Linked DNA regions of Homo sapiens. The protein of the gene in region 1 interacts with the protein of each later gene in a pairwise test. Each region holds a gene or a part of one and is shown on either strand. Other genes may lie near its edges.

Evidence for each region. Proteins that work in one complex are often made in the same cells at the same time.
Region 2: the proteins of FAM13B (region 1) and SAMHD1 interact in a two-hybrid assay, tested with the Homo sapiens proteins (one study listed by BioGRID).

Annotation. Positions count from the first base shown.
Region 1 is NC_000005.10:137,953,073-137,960,101, reverse strand, and holds part of FAM13B (protein FAM13B), read left to right. Parts: intron 1-338; coding exon 339-486; intron 487-3,559; coding exon 3,560-3,625; intron 3,626-5,725; coding exon 5,726-5,936; intron 5,937-6,612; exon of another isoform or gene 6,613-6,636; coding exon 6,637-6,766; intron 6,767-7,029.
Region 2 is NC_000020.11:36,941,700-36,948,728, forward strand, and holds part of SAMHD1 (deoxynucleoside triphosphate triphosphohydrolase SAMHD1), read right to left. Parts: intron 5,106-7,029; coding exon 5,039-5,105; intron 1-5,038.

The sequences.
Region 1 (7,029 bases):
CTTTAATGTGGGTTAGCTAGGTTTAAAGATTTAAATATAAATACTCTTACCAAATATTTTACAGTTAAACAGCAACTTAATTTGCCACTTTTGGTTACAAGAGACTTGGTTGTGAAAACACTTTCCTGAATTTGGGATCCAAACTTGTCTTCCAATAAGACATATTCTAAAACTGCATGTTTATATTTGAAAATAGTTTGCACAGTGGGAGTGGGACAGTTGGCTGTATAGGCACAGTAAACTAATGAAGACTACACTTGGATATGTGCTGGATGTGTTTAAGCTGGGTGTGAAAAGCTTCCGTAGTTGTGAAATATATTCTTTATTTTAAAATACAGGATTCTAGTAGCAAGATATGTGATTTGAATGCCAACACTGAATCAGAAGTACCAGGAGGTCAGAGTGTTGGTGTTCAAGGGGAAGCAGCGTGTGTCAGTATTCCACATTTAGATCTGAAGAATGTTTCTGATGGTGATAAATGGGAAGGTAATTTTACCCACACGCATTATTTTCCTGATAATGTTACTTGTAACCGAAATTACCCTAAGCAATGATAAGACTACAGCCCTTTTCTGGATAACCTTATTCATCTTGATCTTCTGTTCTCCCTTTCATGTAAGATGAACAAGTGGGTGTTTTTAGTGAAACACACTGAGATTTTGGGGCAGCATCTCATATGAACTAGAAGTTCTTGTCTGATCCATCAACAGCTTTGAAAATGGATGTTAGAACTGATTTTTTTAAAAAGTCACCCAGCATACGTTTTTGTTAATATTTAAATCAGGTGCTATCTCCTAGTCTTTGGAAGCCCAGTATGTTAAGGCTTAGGGATCTCACCAGTTTAAGCAGAGCGTGTATAATTACCTTGTCCTTAGTATCATCAGTAGTACTTTTTTGAAAAATGACCTTCAAGGGTACTTCTAAACAAATATTGTACCATATTCCTGTATTTCTGTCTTAGGTTATGAAGGTATGGTGCAGGGGACTCTAAAAATTTGCACAAAGGAGAGAAGTTAAAATTTAACAAGCAAACAACATGGGTATATGCATTTCTCAAAACTCAGCAAATACATAGATTTTTGTGTTTCTTTGTATATAAAGTTCTCTTTTTACTTCAAGAGGATAAAAAACTGTAAACAAATGCTGAACTTCAGTGGATGATTTGCATGCTGGAGTGTTTATGGGGAAATTTACTGATACCTGCAGTTTACTCTGAAATCCATGAAAAAAATAAGATGGTTAATGGGATGGATAAATGTTATAAAGCAAGTATAGTAGAATGTTAATGGTAGATTGTGATTGGTATATGGATATTCAGTGTAAAGTTCTTTCAATTTTGCTATGTATTTGTAAACTTTCAAATAAAATGTTGAGTGGGGGTGGGAATCAAGCAATAAATTTGGATCTAGGAGTTTTTCTGGATCATACACTTTGGTAAAGAGACAATGAGATAACTCAAGAATCTTAAGGATAGTTACATATTCATTCACTTGGATGAAGATCCCTGGGTTGTCTCACCTTTGGCAAGTATCTGTTGACATACACTGGCAATAACAGGAATTCTAATGCCAGTGCCACGGACTCCTTTTGGCACTGTTTAAGTGTACTCACCTGATCGCAAATGGAGTGTGTGTGGGTCTTGTTTTTTTTTTTAAGGTCTAGGCATTTTTTTTTAAGAGCCCCAACCAAGTCATTGTCTGTGCCAATTTTTATTGCCATCTCCTCCCCACCCTCCTTTTTATATAGGTCTAGATGTTTGGCATGCCCAGTGGCATATTATCTGTTTTAACTTAGACTAAATTAGAAAGTTGTCTTTAATTTGCTTTGTTCTGGGTTATTCAGGACATCTGGAATTTATGAAGATGCTTCCCAGTGTTGGGGGATATGTTAGCATACTGGTGGCAGTTGAAGATTAAATGTTCTTTTTTGTTATTTATTGTGGCTGAAATAAAAGGAATGGTGGTCGACAGAGCATCCCTTGCAGCATTGCTAGGAAATGAGTCTTCAAAGGAAGCAGCTTGGATTCTGATAAAGCACTTTTGTTTCTTCCTATTAGAAGATGCAGATAAATAGTTCTTTATGATCTTTGGCCTGGGAGTCCTGATTAAATTTTAAACATAGAAGAATAATTGTTTTTCATTGTCTGAAGAGGATAGACCTTCTCTGTCTAGCGTCAGCGTTCTTGAGTCTCCCTGAAAGAGAACCTGATACTGGACTGTCTTTTTTTTCCATGTCAGAATCCAGCACCTATACCTTGGTATAGATAAAGGAGGTAACCTGTAGGCTGCTGATGCCTGATTTTCAGTGCCTGAGCTGCCCTGGTTCAACAGCCTAAACAAGTCTATGTAGGTCCCCTACTTGTTCTTCCAGAAATAGGGGTCCGCAACTTTCAGAAAGCCGACAGTTACAGACACCTGAGCGAACTTCCCAGCCATGAACTGTGCATGTGCTTTGTAGAGTGGCTGTTTGTAGACCATGTTGTTTCTTCTAACTTTGTCACTAATGCAAACATTGATTGGAGTTAGGATATTCCTCCAATTTTTTTTTTTTTTTTTTTTTTTGAGACGGAGTTTTGCTCTTGTTGCCCAGGCTGGAGTGCAGTGGGGCGATCTCAGCTCACCGCAACTTCCGCCTCGCAGGTTCAAGCAATTCTCCTGCCTCAGCCTCCTGAGTAGCTGGGATTACAGACATGTGCCACTACACCCGGCTAATTTTGTATTTTAGTAGAGACGGAGTTTCTCTGTGTTGGTCAGGCTGGTCTCAAACTCCCGGCCTCGGGTGATCCGCCCGCCTTGGCCTCCCAAAGTGCTGAGATTACAGGTGTGAGCCACCGTGCCCGGCCAGGAGTTAGGATATTCTAAATGAAAAAGTCTTATTTATTTAAGAGACCAACTTACTTTAGACCCTGGATACCTTGGAATCAGACATGCTTTGTTTGATGTGACTCTTTGTAGAGAAGTGGGATGACTCCAAATAGAGCCCTATGTCACTATTCCTAAGTACATAGTTTCTGTTTTGTTTTTTCCTCAAAGGATAAGAAAAATAGCAGAATGCAGTAGTAGTTAGCAAGCAGGTAGCACATGACTGTCACCAGTATGAATTTGTAGCAGCTGTTTGCAAAGTTTTGACTTTTAATGGAAGTGGATACCATCTTCAGATTCTCTCCTGCTAACTCTGGAATGAAATGCAGTAGGATTTTTTCAAAGAGCAAACTAAGGGAGATATTTTCCTTTAAAATCATTTACACTGAAAAGCTTCAAACAGTACCTGCTTAAGAATTTCCATTTCTTCAGTTTTATGTTTGAGTTTTAATAAAATAGCACGACTTTGAGTTTTCCCCCCCCTTTTTTGCATTGCTTGCTGAAATGGAAATGTTATGTTTGTGTTTGTTAAAATCTAGTTAGTAGTGATTTCTTTTAATAACGTTTTTGAACAGAATGCCTAACTGGTTTTAGGGAAATGTTTTTGGTATCTTTGGCTTTGTGTTATGTGTATGGTTTGTTCTGACTGTGCTGTGTGTTCACTTTAGTATTTTTTGCCATTTTTTCCATTTTATTAGCGTCATGCCCTATCACTTTTCCCCTCATTGATTTCAAAACAATGCATCTGCAGAGAGATGGGGAGGGTAAGTATGGTTCACCATAGTTTAGTTTTTTTGCCTTTTATGGTTCACTTTGTTTGTCTTTTTATTAAGCCCTTCTCCTGCTGTCCCCATATCTTAGGAAAACTGTTCTGGGTTCAAAGTGAACCCAGAAAAAATTGCTATTACTTTTGTCTTTTCTTAAAATAGGATATTTCTCATAAAATGTTTACTACCAGTTACTTATTTGCTGGGGCACAGGTACAAGGGTTGCTTTGAAAATCACTTTATTGTTGGGTTTATTGTGGGATTGCACGCTTTGTACCCAATTTTTAATTCTCAGATTGATCTGGGCTTCAAAAACAAACTAAATTATGTTCTTATTATTTTGAAAGGAAAGGTAATGCTTTAAATTGCTAATGCATAAAGTTAAACTAAATTACTAAAGCAGCGATCTTAGCTATTGTGTGAGGAAAAAGAAAACATCACTCTTGAATTTTGACACTGTCAAGCCCTCTTTGCATTCATTTTCGCTATTGCTAATAGCCAATAGCATCAAAATTTTTAAGTGTAGTTACTTAAAAAAAAGCTGCCGGGCGTGGTGGCTCACGCTTGTAATCCTAGCACTTTGGGAGGCCGAGGCAGGCGGATCACTTGAGGTCAGGAGTTCGTAACCAGCCTGGCCAACATGGTGAAACCCCATCTCAACTAAAAATACAAATATTAGCCAAACATGGTAGCAGGCGCCTGTAACACCAGCTCCTTGGGAGGCTGAGGCAGGAGAATCGCTTGAACCCAGGAGGCAGAGGTTGCAGTGAGTCAAGATCGTGCCACTGCACTCCAGCCTGGGTGACAGAGCAAGACTCCATCTCTAAAAAAATAAATAAATAAATAAAAAGCTAATGTGTAGATGGGAATTTTTTCTTTCCCTCCTGTGCTTAATGTTGTATTTGGGGTATATTTGTGGATTGTGTGTATGATCTGTATGTGTTCTATATGTAATCAAACATTATATTTGCAAAGACATCAAATGTATTAACATAGCTTTCATTTGAGGGCATACAGGATAACTGCAGTAAAGTAAATGTGCTTAAGAAGGCCTAGTGCTATTAAGTTTTGTCTTAGTAACACTGTTGGGTATTATTAAAATATATATTATACATAGGAATCCTGTAGCAGAAGATAACCATCACAGTTTAATGTTAGAGGCCAGGTGCTGTCAGGTGAATTAGCTCCTCCTTTGGGAATATTAGAATTCTTCTAAAGTCAGAGAACTCCATTTGGTGAGTGTTCCATGTAACATGGGGAACAGCTCCCACTTTTTCTTAATATAGCTATTTGACAGTGAGGGACAGGTCATACACCTGACATCATTTGGCTTTTAAATTAAATTTCTAAGAAAGAACTGTTCAGTTCTTGCTGTTTCTGGTTTTCCCCTACTTGAAAACTAACATTTGTAAATAAAACATCTTTTGAAAAGTTCAGAATTATATTAAATAACATCTTTAGAATTAAATTGAGTTTTAAAGAGCTTGACAATGTCCTTTCTTGCTTTGCCACTGGGTTCAGAAATTTAAATTTATATGGAAATAGAACTCTGGGCTGGGCACAGTGGCTCATGCCTGTAATCCCTGCACACTGAGAGGCTGAGATGGGAGGATCACTTGAGCCTAGCAGTTCAAGACCAGCCTGGCCAACATAGTGAGACCTCGTCTCTACCAACAACAAAAAAAAGAAAATTAGTCAGGCGTAGTGGCAAGCGCCTGTAGTCCCAGCTACTCGGGAGGCTAAGGTGGGAGGATTGCTTGAGCCTAGAAGGTCGAGGCTGCAGTGAGCCACCATCATGACACTGAATTCCAGAGCCTGGGCAGCAGAGCGAGACCTTATCTCAAAAAAAAAAAATTGAACTCTGGACTAAAAAGTGAAGCTTGAATAATTTTAAACTATAGTAGGCTTTATGAAGATTATATATATATATATATACACACACACATGTATGTGTGTGTGTGTGTGTGTATGTGTGTATGTATATATGAACCACTACATAATGATATGATTTAAGGAACACATAGCTGATATTTTGTGACTTTTTTCCCACGTGGAATCAAGAGACCCATGGTACTATTCTTTGTGTTTGTTTTATAGAGCCATTTCCTGCTTTTAAGTCTTGGCAGGAGGACTCTGAGTCTGGAGAAGCTCAGCTGTCTCCACAAGCTGGAAGAATGAATCATCACCCCTTGGAAGAGGACTGTCCTCCAGTATTATCACACCGCAGTTTAGATTTTGGTCAAAGCCAGCGTTTCCTACATGATCCAGAAAAGTTGGATTCCTCATCTAAAGCACTGTCTTTTACTAGGTATATGATTTTTATGTACTTACAAGAGGCAATTCCTATTATGTACCCAAGTCTTTTGAGAGATTTAGTCTTCCAGCCTGGGCTTCAATAGTGAAACTCCATCTCAAAAAAAAAAAAAAAAAAAGAGAGAGATTGAGTCTTCTAGACATAGAATTCAGAGCTTTCTCACTGATTTTATAGAGCACATTTTTGTAAGTTTTGGTTTTTTTTGACCCTGCTGAGTTCAGTGAGGTGTAGCGTTTGAAGTTTGCTCTCAAATAGACATTTTCTCGTGGTGTATTATTCATTTATTTATGTATTCATCGCTGAAATACAGAGCTCTGTAAAGGAAGCAGCAAATGGTGCTGAGCAGTTCCTAATCTTTTTTTATCAAAGCTTTAAATGGATCTGAATGTCAAAAACTTTGTTATGCAGTTTGAACAGTTACAAGAGCTCTGAGCTGCTAGGTATCTTTGTTTCTTTGCTGCCTTTGTCCAAACCAGTTTTAAATGATTCCAAACTGTTTTCATCACCACTTGTATTAGCTAAATTTGTGGTCTGTAACATTACAGTGTTTCTTTATACTACCTGTCCTTTAGTGTTAGGGACTTATTTTTACCTTTAAGATTTACTTATTGCTAATAGTGCCATGTCAGGGCAATAAGAGATACAGTGTTGGTACTTGAAAATTTAACAGTGTTGGCCTTTTGTTTTAATTCAGAATTCGAAGATCATCCTTTAGTTCAAAAGATGAAAAGAGAGAGGACAGAACACCTTATCAGCTGGTCAAGAAACTTCAGAAGAAAATCAGACAATTTGAGGAACAGTTTGAAAGGGAAAGAAATAGCAAGGTAGGTTTGTAGCATTCCCCAGAGTGAGCTTAATCTAATATTAGAACTGAGAGGATAGTTTTTCAAAAGCATTAGTTTAGATCTGTGTGAGAAAGGTAACAAATCTGAGATACCCGGAGGAACAGTGATCATGTAGATCTGAGATTATATAACTCCTTGGTCTCCTGACTTCCAGGCCAGTATTCTTGCCATTTGCACCGTGGCATCTTTATATTTCCACTGGCAAAGCAGCTTTTAGAATTTTTAAAGCAAATACTTTACAT
Region 2 (7,029 bases), on another chromosome or scaffold:
AGAGAGTGCAGGCAAAGGGTTTTACTGATCTACTAGATAACCAGATTGAAAAAAAAGTATCTTTCTACAAGTCATACATAGACTGGGAGTCAGAGGCACTACATTGGCCTCTATGGTACACACTGAACCCATGGTAATAAGAACACTTAAGAATAATATCTTGGGATACACAGAAGCATTATTACAGCTGATAAATTAAAGCAGCAAATTTCGTGTTTTCCTATTCCCCTATCCTCCTCATCAGTTTGACATAACAAGCACAGTGTAAAGCCAGGCTTTCAGAAGTACTTATAGGTGGACTTAGTTTAAGGGGAGTCACATAGTTGAGCAAAACCGGAGTCATAGCATAAAATATCAAACCTAAACTAACCCCGTGACCACTTAATATTTTCCTAAACTGACATTTGGTATTCATCGCTTAAAACCCCAAAATCGGCCGGGCGCAGTGGCTCACACCTGTAATCCCAGCACTTTGGGAGGCCGAGGTGGGTGGATCACCTGAGGTTGGGAGCTCGAGACAAGCCTGACTAACATGGAGAAACCCCGTCTCTTCTAAAAATACAAAATTAGCCAGGCGTGGTGGTGGCGCATGCCTGTAATCCCAGCTACTCGGGAGGCTGAGGCAGGAGAATTGCTTGAACCCGGGAGGCGGAGATTGCGGTGAGCCGAGATGGCGCCATTGCACTCCAGCCTGGGCAACAAGAGCAAAACTCCAACTCAAAAACAAAACAAAACAAAACCAAAATCACTGATTAGAGTATATAAAACCACCCAAAACCAGGGGGTTGTTTTGTTTAGCAAAGGACATGGCATTAAATAAAGATTTAAAGAAGTCATGGGCCAGGATATCTAGATTATGAAAGAATTTTATTCCTGTGTTCCAACATTTCTGAAATTTAATGCTTCTTACAATTGACATGTATATTTAACGTGACAATGTTTCTATCTAACTTCTTTTTTTTTTTGAAATGGAGTCTTACTCTGTTGCCCAGGCTGGAGTGCAGTGACGTGATCTCGGCTCACTGCAAGCTCCACCTCCCGGGTTCACGCCATTCTCCCGCCTCAGCCTCCCGAGTAGCTGGGACTACAGCCGCCCGCCACCATGCCCAGCTAATTTCTTTTTTGTTTTTGTATTTTTAGTAGAGACAGGGTTTCACCATGTTAGCCAGGATGGTCTCGATCTCCTGACCTCGTGATCCGCCCGCCTCGGCCTCCCAAAGTGCTGGGATTAAAGGCCTGAGCCACCACGCCTGGCCTGTTTCTTACTTGTTAAAAAAACCTTTATAAATCAATGGTTGTTCATAAAATTGAGGGCCTACTAGGAGTGCTTGTCTAAGCTGGATTCTCCCTAGAAAGCAGGGTCCAGGATAAGAGCTTGCAAGTAATTAATCTTGGGGTGAACTCTGGGCACAGGGATTGGGGGGTCTAGGGAGGGTAAAATAGGAAATTAGGTAAAAACAGTACAAAGGTCCATTAACAAGTTGATTGCATTGGTACTACTGTGAGCAACTGGATGGAGTGGTGGGTAGGGCTAATCCCACTGGCAACCTGTAAGGCAGCACTGTCTAGTAGAACTTTCTGCGATGATGGAAATGTTCTATATCTGCTCTGTCCAACACAGTAGCCGTTAGCCATAGTGACTACTAAGTACTTGAAATATGGCTAGTGTAACTGAGGAATTTTTTACTTAATTTACTTCTAATTAATTTAAACGTGAAGCTAGTTGTTATTATACAGAACAATACAGCTCTAAGGAGTCCTACAGAATTTGAGTTATGAGGTGGGGCACAGAGACGTGCAATATAGTGTTCCTTCTGGAACACTGCAATATAGTGTTCCTTTGTCTGTTTTGTTCACTCATGTGCCCCAAATTCATGGAAGAATTCCTAGTACATAGTGAGCTTTCCAAAAATATTCACTGAATGAATCAATAGCACTTGGGTCCACAAACATGCACATGGCTCCCTTGAAAAGAAAGACTGTATTAGAACAAATTCCATTCAGGTCAAATAGTAAGCAACTATTATGTACAAGAAACAAGTAGTAAAGGGGACTTTGAGAGGACTGAGAGGGCTGAAATGTGGTTATGAAAGAGTCATGCCGGGGACAGTGGCTCACGCCTGTAATCCCAGCACTTTGGGAGGCTGAGGCAGGCAGATCATGAGGTCGGGAGTTCAAGACCACCCTGGCCAACATAGTGAAACCCTGTCTCTACTAAAAATACAAAAATTAGCCGGGCATGGTGGCACACACCTGTAGTCCCAGCTACTCAGGAGGCTGAGGTGGTAGAATCACTTGAATCTGGGAGGTGGAGGTTGCAGTGAGCCGAGATCACGCCACTGCCCTCCAGCCTGAGTGACAGAGCAAGACTCCATCTCAAAAAAAAAAAAAAAAAAAAGAACTTTGGGAGGCCTGAGGCGGGCAGATCACAAGGTCAGGAGATTGAGACCATCCTGGCTAACACGATGAAACCCCGTCTCTACTAAAAATACAAAAAATTAACCGGGCATGGTGGCACATGCCAGTAGTCCCAGCTACTTAGGAGGCTGAGGCAGGAGAATCACTTGAACACCACTGAACTTGAACTCCAGCCTGGGCAACAGAGTGAGACTTCGTCTCAAAAAAAAAAAAAAAAAGAAAGGGCTAAGATGAGGTCCCTGGAGATTCTGATCCAAAGGATATTTACTGGAAGTCAGTTAAATGTTCTACAGTGATCTTGTTTCACAATGTACTTCTGTTATCAATTACTAAGCAACAGCACAGGAAGTAATTCAGTATAATCCTTTGTTTTGATTCTTTGGTTACTGTTACCACAAACAACATGTAACTAAAATTTCAGAAGAGAAGGCCATATTTCCCCACTGTTGCCAATTTTCTAACAGAAACAAAATCTTCATTTTAAGAAGTATTTAAGGCCGGTCGCAGTGGCTCGCGCCTATAATCCCAGCACTTTGGGAGGACGAGGTGGGTGGATCACCTGAGGTCGGGAGTTCGAGACCAGCCTGACTAACATGGAGAAACCCCGTCTCTACTAAAAATACAAAATTAGCTGGGCATGGTGGCGCATGCCTGTAATCCCAGCTACTCGGGAGGCTGAGGCAGGAGAATCACTTGAACCTGGGAGGTGAAGGTTGAGGTAAGACGAGATCGTGCCATTGCACTCCAGCCTGGGCAACAAAAGCAAAACTCCGCTTCAAAAAAAAGAAGTATTTAAGCACCAGATCCTCTACTGAGATCATTAAAGGAGCCCCACTCTAATCTAGACCCTAGAACCTACAGCCATACACAGAGATGGATCTATGTAACTATGTATGTATGTATGTATATATGTATCTATCTACCTACCTACCTATCTGAGACAGGGTCTTATTCTGCTGCCCAAGCTGGAGTGCAGGAGCTTATCATAGATCACTGCAACCTTGAACTCCTGGGCTCAAGGGATCTTCCTGCTTCAGCCTCCTGAGTGTAGGTGGGACTACAGGTGCATGCACAGTACCCGGCTAATTTTTTAATTTTCTGTATCACTATCTATAAAATTTACTAAGCGTTAATCATATGCTTCAACACTTTATGTACATCATCTCATTATTGTTATCCATTTTACAGGTACAGAAACTGAAGGGTTAAATGACTTCTCCCAAATTATACAACTAAAAAGTGCCTGTTTTGCATAGTGTCTTTAAATCTAATACCAGGGCATATTCCAATCTTTAGGAAAACCTAGAAATATGCTCAAGATAGGGGTGTAGCCTTGATTTTCTTACTAACATTTTTTTCCCTATTGGTTCTTATGTATTTCCCAGTGTGTATAATTCAATTATTCTGAACTTGAGAGTAAAAAGTTGGTCACTACAAACTTGATGAAGATTTGTCTGCAACATTATTTAAAATAGGAATAAGGCCACACACGGTGGCTTATGCCTGTAATCTCAGCACTTTGGGAGGCCAAGGTGGGCAGACCTTGGCCCACCTTAGGTCAGAACTCCAGACCACCTTAGGTCAGGAGTTCGAGACCAGCCTGGCCAACATGGTGAAACCCTGTCTCTACTAAAAATACAAAACTTAGCTGGGCATGGTGGTGCATGCCTGTAATCCCAGCTACTCAGGAAGCTGAGGCAGGAGAATGGCTTGAACCCAGGGGGTTCAGTGAGCCGGGATCGCACCATTGCACTCCAGTCTGGGTGACAGAGTGAGACTCTGTCTCAATAAATAAATAAATAAATAAAATTAAAAATAAACTAAAATAGGAATAAACAGTAATAGCAAACATAGGATTTGTACAGCGAAAACAAACAGCAGGTGGCCAGTCGCGGTGGCTCACACCTGTAATCTCAGCACTTTGGGAGGCCGAGGCAAGCGGATCACTTGAGGCCAAGAGTTCAAGACCAGTCTGGCCAACATGGTGAAACCCCATCTCTACTAAAAGTACAAAAATCAGTGGGGCAGCCGGGCGCGGTAATTCCAGCACTCTGGGAGGCTGAGGCGGGCAGATCACGAGGTCAGGAGATTGACACCATCCTGGCTAACATGGTGAAACCCTGTGTCTACCAAAAAATACAAAAAAGTAGCCAGGCGTGGTGGCAGGCGCCTGTAGTCCCAGCTACTCGGGAGGCTGAGGCAGGAGAATGGCATGAACCCGGGAGGCGGAGCTTGCAGTGAGCCAAGATCACGCCACTGCACTCCAGCCTGGGAGACAGAGCGAGACTCTGTCTCAAAAAAAAAAAAAACCGAAAAAAAATTAGTGGGGCATGGTGGTGGGCACCTGTAATCCTAGCTACTCAGGAGGCTGAGGCAGGAGAATAACTTGAAGCCGGGAGGCAGAGGTTGCAGTGAGCCGAGATACTCCAGCCTGGGTGAACAAGAGACTATCTCAAAAAACAAATGAACAAACAAAACCAGCAGGCAAGGGATTCTGCTGTTTTAAAGCACTTCATAGATTTAAAATGAGGACAGTTTATATCAGAGATTTTGGGCTTTGTCCCTGAAAGATGGATAAAGTGTGTTTGGTTATAACGTGAATTTATTTCTTCATTCTTACCTTACTCCAAGATTTTCAAAACGAGACTCATCAAGACAAGGCAGTAATGCGCCTGTGATTTCATTTTCTATGGAAGAAAAAAGACAAATTCAATGTATACAACATATGCTTTTCATTTTCTTTCAATTTGGATACACCAACATTTACCCAGATCCACATAAGTGAGTACCCACTGCAGGCAATGGATTGTGCCAAGTACCACTTTTTTGATCTGCTACTTGTAAAGACTTAATTTTAATTAAATAACTAAACCAAGAAGCATTTTTTGATAAATCACGTGAAAATTTCAAAATTATTTGTGTAAATTAGTTCCAAGAAAAACCAGTTGCAAAAAGGAAAGTGAAACCCGACTACCTGTTGGGGTTTTGCCAGGTCAGCAGCTTTGAGTTGGGGAGGGAAGGAAACCTAAGTCTATTGTTCTTAGAATTAACAAGGTTTGAGTTGGGGAGGGAAGGAAACCTAAGTCTATTGTTCTTAGAATTAACAAGTTAAAACCGTGAATTCAAGAGTGCTTAAAGTGTTGATTTTTCTCAAACCTCCTGGGAAAGCACTCAATACTCTGATTTGGAAGAGGTGTGTGTGTGTGTGTGTGTGTGTGTGTGTGTGTGTGTGTCCTGGGAAAGCACTCAATACTCTGATTTGGAAGAGGTGTGTGTGATTTGGAAGAGGTGTGTGTGTGTGTGTGTGTGTGTGTGTGTGTGTGTCCTGGGAAAGCACTCAATACTCTGATTTGGAAGAGGTGTGTGTGTGTGTGAGTGTGTGTGTGTGTGTGTGTGTCCTGGGAAAGCACTCAATACTCTGATTTGGAAGAGGGGTGTGTGTGTGTGTGTGTGTGTGTGTGTGTGTGTGTGTGTTGTTGGGTTTTTTCCTTTCTCTTTCTATACAATTAATTCTAATCTTTCCTGACCTCAAATTCCAGAACTCTGGACTATTTTCTTTTATTTTCTTTGAGACAGGGTTTTGCTTGTTGCCCAGGTTGGAGTGCAGTGGTGCGATCACATCTCACTGCAGCCTTGACCTCCTGGGCTCAAGCGATCCTCCTGCCTCAGCCTCCTGAGTAGCTGGGACCACAGGCATGTGCCACTGCACCTAGCTAATTTTTATTTTTATTTTTTGTAAAGTTGAGGTCTCCTGATGTTGCCCAGGCTGGTCTTGAATTCTTGGGCTCAAGTGATCTTCCCACACTGGCCTCCCAAAGTGCTGGGATTATAGGTATGAGCCACTGGGCCAGGCCTCCAGTGGTTTTTGATGAGAATACTTGTTAAGGTATAGATCACATGAGTTCTAGAGTCCAAAGACCTAACCTTAAAAAATCTAGCTCTTTTTTGTAGTGGTGTGATCTCTGAAAAGTTACTTTACATCTTTGGACCTCGCATACATCATCGGTAAAATGTGTTGAGTGTAGTAACTTATTTCAGACTTCTTGTGAGGCTGTATTCCATAATGAGAAAAGGGACACTGTACCTTGTGCTTGGCTTATCAAATTAAAAAAAAAATGGACTTAGATAAAGAGAGACTTTTTTTTTCTTTTCCGAGATGGAGTCTCACTCGGTCGCCCAGGCTGGAGTGCAGTGGCGGGATCTTGGCTCACTGCAACCTCCGCCTCCCAGGTTCAAGTGATTCTCCTGCCTCAGCTTCCCAAGTAGCTGGGACTACAGGCACATACCACCATGCCCGGCTAATTTTTGTATTTTTAGTAGAGACGGTGTTTCACCATGTTGGCCAGGCTGGGCTTGAATTCCTGACCTCAGGTGATCTACCTGCTTCGGCCTTCCAAAGTGCTGGGATTACAGGCGTGAGCCACCGTGCCCGGCCAAGAGAAACTTTATTAGAAAGAAAGACTATTGCTGGTCGGGCGTGGTGGCTCACACCTGTAATCCCAGCACTTTGGGAGGCCAAGGCGTGTGAATCATCAGGTCAAGAGATTAAGACCATCCTGGCCAACATGGTGAAACCCCATCTCTACTAAAAATACAAAAATTAGCCAGGTG